Linked DNA regions of Homo sapiens: region 1 is linked to region 2. Evidence: fine-mapped expression QTL. Tissue or cell type: atrial appendage. Region 2 holds a variant in brackets; the other region holds the start of a gene. All regions are shown on one strand. Distances are between the middles of the regions.

Region 1 (5,158 bases), 98 kb after region 2:
GGAGAAGAAGCCCTAATGAAATGAGCCAGCTGATGAGTACTTCCAATTTTGGGGGTGCTCACTGAATCTTCTTTTTACTACTTTCTCCATTTGGAAAAGATATCAGTTTCAAACTTTTTATTCATCATTTCAGAAAAGGCTGGCATCTCTGAGGAGCTCTTTTCCAGTAAGAAGGAAACCAATGTCTTCAATGTTTCCTCATAGTAGAGATTCCTAAGACAGGCAATCATCTTTTGGTTCTTCTGTTCCACCCTAGCACCACTTCCACTCCTGGGAATATTCTCCATTTGGGCTAGGCTAGGGGTCACTAGAGCATAATACACAGTCATTGATTCCATTTTAAGGCATCAAACTCTTTTACCGTCAATAACAGAATATATGGTTGGGACACATTTCGTATGGTCTGACAGGGCAGATGAAAGATAAAAAATTAGTATTGATATGTGAATATTTAGAAGAGGCTTTTAGAGAAAGAGACAAGAAATCAATGCTGATTGAAACAGAGCAATGGTTTTCGTTAAGTTTTAACAGGTGATGTTTCGATTTGTTTAGGCATTATGGTTTAAAATACAATTAAAAGGGAAAAAGAGAACATATATCGTTATAGTTTAATTTCACCTCAAATTGTGTTGGGGTAGTTTTTCTATGCTGAGTAAATATAAATCTATTGGTGAAATCCACAGTCAACAGATGTTTACTTTTCTTGGTATCTTAGAAATTATCTAGTACAACCACGTTATTATAATTATGTAAAAATGCAAGACCAGCTATCATTAACTATCAAGCTTATCACATAAACTTGATAATTGTTCTAAGCACCTCTCTCTCTCACACACACACAAACACACACGCATTATATATATGATTTATCTCTAAACCTCTTAGCACTAGTACAATGTACGTGTTATTATTTTTATTTTACATATTAGGAAACTGAGGCTTAGAGAAAATAAGTGACTTGTCCAAGGCAACATGGCTAACAATTCAAGATTTGGACCCATTTCTAGCTTGCTTCAAAGCTGGGTTCATTTCTATCCCTACATAGTTGAAAAGACTACATAGAATAGAAACAGATTTCTGAAACCCTGTCTCATTCTCTTTCCATTAAGCTATGATGGACTTTGATTTTCTAACCTGTAACAATAATGGAATTTGAACTTGCTTTCCGTGGTCACTAATTTTACTATTCCATTGGAAAGGAGCCAAGCTACAACAATAGTGCAGACCTTGAAACCAATGATTTTATATATATATATATATGTGTGTGTATATATATGTATGTGTGTGTGTGTGTGTGTGTGTGTGTGTGTGTGTATATCTTTTTTTTTTTTGATGGAGTTTTGCTCTGTCGCTGAGGCTGGAGTGCAGTGGCGCCATCTCAACTCACACACCCTCCGCCTCCCGGGTTCAAGCAATTCCCCTGCCTCAGCCTCCAGAGTAGCTGGGACTACAGGTGCGTACCACCAAGCCCATCTAATTTTTGTATTTTAATAGAGATGGGGTTTCACCATCTTGGCCAGGATGGTCTCGATCTCCTGACCTCATGATCCGCCAGCCTTGGCCTCCCAAAGTGCTGGGATTACAGGCGTGATACACTGTGCCTGGCCCAGTGATTATATTTTTATAGGAAATAAATTATTTCATGAGAGAAAAAAGAAAGGACGTATTATCTCACTGTGATAAATCTCATAATATTGGCATACTCCCTAAGTTGGGCAACTTTGATCAGTTTTCTGGAACCATCATAAAAAGGCCTTTAATTGGATAAAGTCTCGAACTTTTCTTCTGTGGATGTGAATATCTTGAGAAGTACTGGAATGAAACAATTTGGCTCTGGTTTCAGTCATCTTCACATGTTTCTTCAGGTGCTTTCTTAAGCTATTAGGGCAAAATAAGCTGGTAGAAAAAAGGTGTTACTTGTAGGATGAAAGAAGCAACTAAAGAGAAGAAACTTTCTCTAGAAAAATGTTACATTTACACATTTATAATTGTTAACAACTTTTTTCTTCTTTTCTTTTTGGGAGACTAAATAATGGGATGATACAGGAAGAAATATGATTTAGAGAAAACTGATTGAGCCAAATTTTTCAAACGGTAATATGGGTAATCATAGGCTATGGAAAGTTAAACTGAGTCTCCAATGTTTATGATTATGATGTTTGGCTAGGATATAAAATAAGGCTTCAGAATATAAAATATCCTGCAGATTGAGAAGTTTTAAAAGTAGTTACATACAAGTTTTATTTTTCCAACGTTCCTGCCTTTTCTAATGTCTAAGGATGAAGCAGTGTACAGAGAGGAAAGAATGTTATATGTGTGGTCTGCTTGCAAGTGCTGGATGCCTCCTCTGCCTGCTCCAACTAAACTGTCTGCTTATGAGAAAGTCATTGCTCCTCTGAGTTCCTGCCTCCCTATATATTCAACATTAGAATTTTGCCAGGTTATCTTTTAGGGTCGTTCAACTCTAACATATATATGAGTCTGTGACACTGAACTCAGACACTTCAGAACAGGAACCCTGGATTTCTCTGGATGTGGAAATCTTTAAATCTATACCTGACTGGTAGGACAACCAATCTGTCTTCCTTTCCTCTCCTCTCCCACTTATGAAGGGAGTCCAGTCAGAAACATGTTTGTCTACGAGGTAGTATATCTGGTATTTCTGAGGAATTCGGTTATTATATAGGATTATAGAATATTCAACTTTGAGTAGGGTCTGTGGACTCCATCAATTGCGTTCTGGGGGAGGTACCATGAAAGAACATTCCTACTTTAGAAATAGATATTCTCTGTTCAAACCTGACACCCTGACAGGATCCTAAAGGATGGAAGCTAAAGTGGTGTGGTATATAAGTCCCATGACCTTGAACAACTGGTTTTATGTGGGTGTCACCAGTGCTTTATAAAAGTAAACTGCATCGCCCCGAGTTCAGTCATACTGCACCAGCTGAGCAATGCATGGAGTGGACCTGTAGGCGACTTGCATCGTCTTCAACATGAAGATAGCCACAGTGTCAGTGCTTCTGCCCTTGGCTCTTTGCCTCATACAAGGTGAGCAATTTGTGTGTAATCTAAGCCTCTTGCCACACATCTCAAAGCCCTGGGGAAGGGACTTTTCTCCCCCTACTCCTGCCAAAAAATGTTTACGTATGCATGTATAATCCTGAAATGTCTTGCCAGACACAGAGTTCTGAAGATTTATATATGTGGCTTTATAATTATGTTGTTATCTTTAGAAATGGCAAGTAGTTTGAGATAATCTGAATTTTCTAACCATGAGAAATTCTTCCATTAATTCTTTATTAATTCAGAAAACTGAATAGATTCTTCTTCATCTTCCTCTTGCTAAATGTATCAATTCATAATGCATATTCTTATATATGTAATAGACATTTAAAACTTAATTGTAAATAATATATGTATTTTAATGTTATAGGTATAAATGAAATATTTTTTAAAATTCAATCATCTGTTCTTATTTTAAAGCAGTGGTATCTTCTAGCTTATTTTAGTCTTGTGTTTTCAAATGCTAAATGGGTTGAAAGCATTTCTCCCAAAGAGTGAGGGACTTTTGTGGGAGCTGGAAGGTAGATTTTTATATTTGCTATTTAACCCTAAGAGAACACAAATTGCCTAGACTTACGTTGCTCTGAAACATTAAAATTTTTAAAAAGAGAAACTCATAGATAGTCTGAAATCATATACAAATAATGCCCATTTTCCTAAAATAGGTGTGTAGGTACAAAAGAGCCTATGTTAATGAGAGAGTATAATAGCCTGTGACCTTAATCTTACCTTCTGTCAGATCTCTAACTTTTGCAGCTGTAATAAGGAGGTAGAGCTGCCAGAATTCAGAAAATTAAATTTTATGTATATATCCTATAAATGTAATGCTATATTATAGTTTCAACTATAATATAGTTTCAAAATTATAATTGGTATAGTATTTTGTGTGTATGTTATATTGTAATTTTAAAAGGGAGGCTGGCATTTATTACTCCGAAAGGACCTTTTGAAGATAAGCTATTTTGATGGGGTTAGAATTCACATGAGTATTATTTTCCAAAGTAATTGTAACTTTCTGAGTGATTAGACCTTTGTGAGTATATATACTAATCTCCTGGTCCAGTGCCCTTCTTTTATTTGCCATGATAAATCTTAATGTGTTCAAAAACCATTTGCGGTTTTACAACATATTGTCATTAAAGCAATCAAGATGCTGCATTAAATGGATTATTTGTTTTGTTTATTAAATATTTTACATTTCCTTAACTTTGGTTTCTATATTTTCATCCCAGATGCTGCCAGTAAGAATGAAGATCAGGTTAGTCCTGCTTTTTCTGTTCATTGAATTCATTCCAAGATTCCCAAAGAAAAGTGGTTTGTGGCCAACACCTTCATGTTAATAATACAAACATATTATACTGGTAGGTACTAATAGCTTTTGTTAAAAACACAGAAACAGATTTTTATGAATCAGGACATGAGCCTCTCTCTCACACACACACACACACACACACACACTCAACATATTAATGATGATGGATGTCTGCAAGAGGCAATTTATCATGTTAAAGGAGCATTTTAAAATTTCATAAACAAAAAATAAATCAACTGGAAAACTACTATTGTTCCATTTAACATCTCAACAAGCCATGATACACCACATAGGAAGCTGAAATAAATTTTCTAGTAATCATTATGCAAAAGAGGGTGGTCTGTATCTTGTATATAGTCGGTGTATATAGTTCATGTAATGAATATTTATTGAGCATCTCTTAGATGTCAGACCCTGTTTGAGATGCTGGGGTTATTTTTAAGTAAACAAAATAGATGAAATTCCTGCCCTGAAAATTACGTTTTAGTGTAGGAAAACAGACAAATTAATAAGTAGCTTAGCAAAACATATGGTACGTTAAATAATGATAAATGCTAGGAGAAAAATAAATCAGGAGGCATAATAGGATCCCTGAGAATGGAGGTGGTATCCATTCTCATAAGGATAATCAGGGAAGTTCTCTCTGGACAGACAGTATTAGAATAGGAATCTGAAGGTCATAAGGGAATGAACCACGAAGGTATTTGCAGTTTACAGCAGGCCAGACAGAAGCACCTGTGAGCGCAGAGGCCCTGACGCAAGAAGGTGCTTTACCAACTC
Region 2 (5,158 bases):
GAATTTAAAGAAAAAGGTAAAAAATAGTAAAGGTGATTCTCAGACATGTTACAAATGAAGTGATTTTGTGAAAATCATATTCTTTAAAGACAGTTCTATCAGTTTGTGTGACCTTGAACACATTCTTAACATGGTGATACTTAATTTCCTCACTTCCTGACAAATGAGGATAACACTAAAGCTGTTTAATAATTTTGTGGCAAGGATTCAAGATTTCAATACATGGAAAGTATTCAGCCCGGTGTTCAGCACACAGTGAGAATGCAATAAATCTGAACTATTGTTTTTACTTTTCATCGATAACAGTGAGAACTCTTGAACCATGGAAAGCTGCCTTGCAGAAAGCTCATCACTGAAGATTTGTAAACAGGACCAGGAGGACATTTATCAGGGATGCTGCAAGGGAGATTCTCACATAGGTAAGAGCCAAGCTAGTGCTTTGAGGTCCTTCCAACCTGGAGATTCCAACCCTGCTTTTCAGTGAAATCCAAGGGACTTGGAACCAGAGTTTTCCTCTTATGTTTTGAGAGGACACTTAGTTACTGATCATCGGCATTGAAAAGCCATTGCTCTGTGAACACTATTGTTGGCTGTGACACCGAGACTTGGCCTTTTCATCACCCACATCACTGTCAAGAAGAGCTGTTTGAGAACCACACAGCTATTGTCCCATAGTTCTTGCCCAACCAGGAAAATCCCTATTCTGTCCTCACATCCTTCCTCATAACCGTGGGAATTGCTGTGAGGGTTTCTCATGGGTACAGAGAGGAACCATCCTGTCTCACTCTCAAGTGGAAACTGGCCTTTTCCCAGTGGAGGATACTGGCAGGCAACCAGTTCCACACTGAGAGCCCTGGCTATGGGAAATCCTTCTTCATACAAGCTGAAATATGCTTCTCTGCAGCTTTCACCCACATGTCCTAGTTTCATCTCCTCGAACCACAAAGAACAAGTCTATCCAGTGCCCCCCATGTAAACCCCTCAGAATTCTGTAGACTAAAGGAGCATTTGCCCTGTTGTTTTTGTTCCCCATTGTTCCACAGACACACATTGTTCCTTCTGAGCATAGTTTCCAGCCCCCACCCCTTCCTTATCACTGACATCATTTCTAACACAGTTCCTCTTTGCCCTTTTTGCATGCCAGAGATTGTGGACTCTGGGCTCCTTTTTCTTTATAGAGGGACAGACACTCTCAGTAAACAGTTCAACTGCAAAGGATCCAGCAAATATACTCATTTGAAGCCTTCAGTGACAGATCATGATGTGTTTGCTGCTCTTTAGGGCTCTGGTCCCTTTCTTACTCTGTGCACACTTCCAAGAAATCTCCTCCAGTCCACCTGGTTTTATTCCATCAACTGAAGATTCTAGTATCTAATTCTAATGTTGTTTCTCTTCTGAGTTCCAAGATTGTGTACAATAGGCTCCTGAATATCCACACATAAATATCTCACAGGTGTTTCAATCTCACTGAGTTCAAAACTGAACCTACTCACTTTCTCCCAGTTTCTCTATCTCTGCAGTGGGGATATTAATGATACTTAAATCACAAGGTTGTTTTAAAGATTAAATAAATAAATGTGTGTTAAGCACTTAAGATAGTACCTGATAAAAAATAGATAGTATGTATATTGCCATTATTGGTGGGCACAGAAAAACAAGCAAAGATAAAATATGCTGGTGCTGATATTTTATGAGGAAAAAAAACATGAAGCATGAGAGGCTGAGAAGTGCCAATAGAGACAGAAGGATACCACAAGGCAATTTTGGAAAGCGGTTGTAATATGTTCTCGATGCATTCTTCTTGTAGAAAACAAATGTCTAAGAAAATTATTGATAACTCACTAAGTATATATATATATGTCATTATCGTTGGTTGGCCATTCTGAGTGTTTTTCAGTTGCTCAACATGCTCAGCATGAGGGGCCTTCTGTTCTATGGCTAAAGTCACTTCTAGGGTCAGTATCTCTTTTTCTGGGCTTCTCAGAGGAAGTGAGTTCATGGTGAGGTTTATATCCAAAGAAGAAAGGATCGCCTTTGGAGATGGCAGCAGTCTGCTTTGTAAGTGCTTATGCAAGTCAAGCATCAACTTGCT[A/G]TGGAGAAGCATCTCATGAACCTGCAAGAGTGGTTGGTTAGGACATGCAAAGCTGTGCTACTCAAAGTGCTGCCTACAGATTGGTGCTGATCCACAAACTGTTACTGGTCTGCAGTGTAGTAAGTACAGAACTGAGAATAAGCATAAGACATAAAGTATCTTTATGTCTTAAATCTAACAGTGGTAAAATGTAGACTTGTATTTAACATATGTGAATATATTTTCATTTAATTTAAAGCATTAAATTGTGATGAATAGAAAACAAACAAAAGAAAAAAGGAAAAAAAATAAATTAGCTCCTCATAACATATTGTTTGAAAGCATTGAGTCTGAGTGTGCATCCCTGAGTTCTGGTCCTGGCTTTGACACCACCTCATGAGAGATCCCAGGCAACTCAGTCCTCTTTGTATAAATACCACCCACTGATTGCACAACTGGAGCAATTACTCTGTGCACAGAGTAATTTCCAAACACTCACTCCTGTTTGGAAATTACTTTCCATGTATATGAATTAAGGATCTTGGAGTAGCTTATTCTTAATTTTCTTCATCTTTGAAGATGCCATAATCCTAATAATCCTTTAAAATATTTTTTAAAATAAACTGAATAAAGCTCCATTGCTTGCTTTTGAGCTAAATAATCCTGCTTTCTGATAAAAACCTAACCACAGCCTAGACTTTGACTGCTTTTCTTCAGATCTCCATAAGGAACATATTATTTTCTTTGGGTGACTATCTCCCAGCTTTCCTCTTTCACTGTGAACATCTCCTTTTCTTGCTGTTCTCAGGTCTTCCCCCAAATCAAAGTATTTTACAGGAATATCTTCCTCTGCTGTCTGTTCATGGACTTATGATCTTGAATTTTCCAAGTATTTATCTAAGACATTCTCTGAATAAAATCTAAGCAACCAGGCTTTGTAAGGAGTTTGGATTTTATTCTGAGTAATGGGAAGCCATCGGGTATTGCTAAGAAGGGGAGTGACGATATGATTTATGCTTTCAGATAACCCATGGCTGGTCTTTGGAGATTAGATTGTAGGGGTCAAATATGTGCACAGAGAATACCCTGGAGGCTAATACAGTACTGAAGGTAGGCTGTGATGGTGGTTTTGTCTATGAGACATAAAGAATAGGCCTTTATCTTGTTCTTATCTAGCTTATTCACCACTCTTGGTAGTGCTATAGTATAGAATGGTGTATATGTCTCAGATATGGCTTTGCTTAACTGGATTGGGATTGCAGTTGTTTCTGGGTAGTTATTTAACACTAATGCTAAATAATGTAACAGGAGTTAACATTAATTCACAAGAAGTTATGTCTTGAAATCATTGCCCAATGTCTCATTCATATGAGTGTATGTAATCAGAAAACATGCAGGCGAAAGACTGTTGATGCAGGGTTTCAGATGGAAAAAGCTTCCTATCCTTCTGTCTTTTCACTTTGAAAACAAAGGTGGCAAACAAGATTTCTGCACTCTAAAGGCCATCCCAGACAATGTGCTGGTTTGTTGAAGCAGCCCTGGGGCTGCTGAGGAGATGAAGAGGTCTGCCTTTGGGAATCAACTGCCTTCAGTCACGCAGACCCATAGACCGTGCATCAGCTGACTCAGCAATAGATGGCACTGAGCTATTCACTCCATTTCACCTTGGGCTGTATCTAGGCATTTCACTGAGAAGTGAAAGAGTTAGGAAAAAAATTAAGGACTATATCCCGGTAAAATCATTCTAGTAATAGAATTGGTTGGAGATTTCTATCTGGGGAAATGTTCAGCTTCATAGATGACCACGATCAGCAACCACACTGAGAATAATTTAGGATAAGGGAAGAATCCATGAAATACATAAAAAGAGGCAGTGGGAAGTGATGTAGATCCCCAACTTTGAAGTTTGAACCAAGATTCAATTCCCCTGTCTTTGTTTTGCTAGCTTCTAACTTCAGATTGTTTTCTGATTATTAGAAGCTGTATCTTTTCTGCAAAATATGATAATTTCACATTCATGGTTGATACAAGCATCAAATGAGAACTAGATGACAGTGTTTATAAACTATAAAAAGCCATGAACAGTTTAGTTATAATAATAAAGCTTCCACTGAATTGCATCTTCTTATCAATGCTATTTGTGGAATTCATACAGCTTGCTTGGTCGCAACATTGCTAAGTGAAACTTGAAAGACACTGTAAGAAAATACCTGTAGGTATCAAATTACATAATGCATAAATATGATGATTTTATGTGCATGCATGTGTGTACATGTTTGCATTATATCAGTGTTATATTCAAATTTTGAATAATAAAATTTTGATGGGGTGGGATCAGATGCAATATGGGAAGCAGGTTTGCAACCAGGGCTTTGCAGACAGAAAGACCAGTGTTCAAACATCAGTTTTCAGGGTTGGTGAGTTTAGACAAAATTGCTTAATTTGTATGATAATCTGCAAACTGGTGATAGCAATATCTATTTAACAGTGTGGATGTGAAAAAGTAATAAGGTAAAGAATATTAAACATTTTGCAAGTACTGAGAAAAAGGAGACCCCAATAAATGCTAGTTTTTTTCATTATTACCAATAATAAAACCCACTCCATGCATATGTGTGGGTAGATGGAGACTCTTGCCTGAGTGACAGTCCCTGGAATGGTACAAAGAGATGTTCACTTGTATGAGAAAGAAACATCCTTTCTTGAGTCTGCCTCTCTTGCTTTGTGGAGGAAGTGCCAGAATTTGATTATTCCTTTTCTTCCTGACTTCTTTCAGAAATGGAACAGGCCAATGGGTTCTAGGAATGTAATTTTTTAAAACATTCTAAGCTTTAGGGGTACAAATGGTTTTTGGTTACATGGATGAACTGTTCCAGTGGTGAAATCTGGGCTCTTAGTGGACCCATCACCCAAATAATGCCCATTATAACCAGTAGTTTTTAATCCCAGACCCTCTCTCCCAGCCTGTCCCATCTGAGTCTCTAATGTCCATGATACCACTCTGTATGTCTTTTCGTATCCTTCGCTTAGCTCCCACTTACAAGTGAGAACATGCAGTATTTGGTTTTCCATTCCAGAGTTACTTCA

Evidence for each region. PIP is the estimated chance that this variant, and not a neighbour inherited with it, causes the effect. A credible set is the group of variants that fine-mapping cannot tell apart.
Region 1: it holds the start of SPINK5, and the variant in region 2 is the best candidate, but not a certain one, in a credible set for the expression of SPINK5 in atrial appendage (GTEx, PIP 0.90).

The regions. Positions count from the first base shown.
Region 1 is chr5:148,061,049-148,066,206 of GRCh38, forward strand. SPINK5 (serine peptidase inhibitor Kazal type 5) reads left to right here and starts at 2,932. Exons shown (of 33, transcript NM_006846.4): 1 at 2,932-3,051; 2 at 4,299-4,324. The coding sequence starts at 2,997.
Region 2 is chr5:147,963,404-147,968,561 of GRCh38, forward strand. No RefSeq gene overlaps it. Among named protein-coding and RNA genes, the nearest start is that of C5orf46, 59 kb to the left of the region's middle. The variant A/G (reference allele first, on the strand shown) is at 2,093.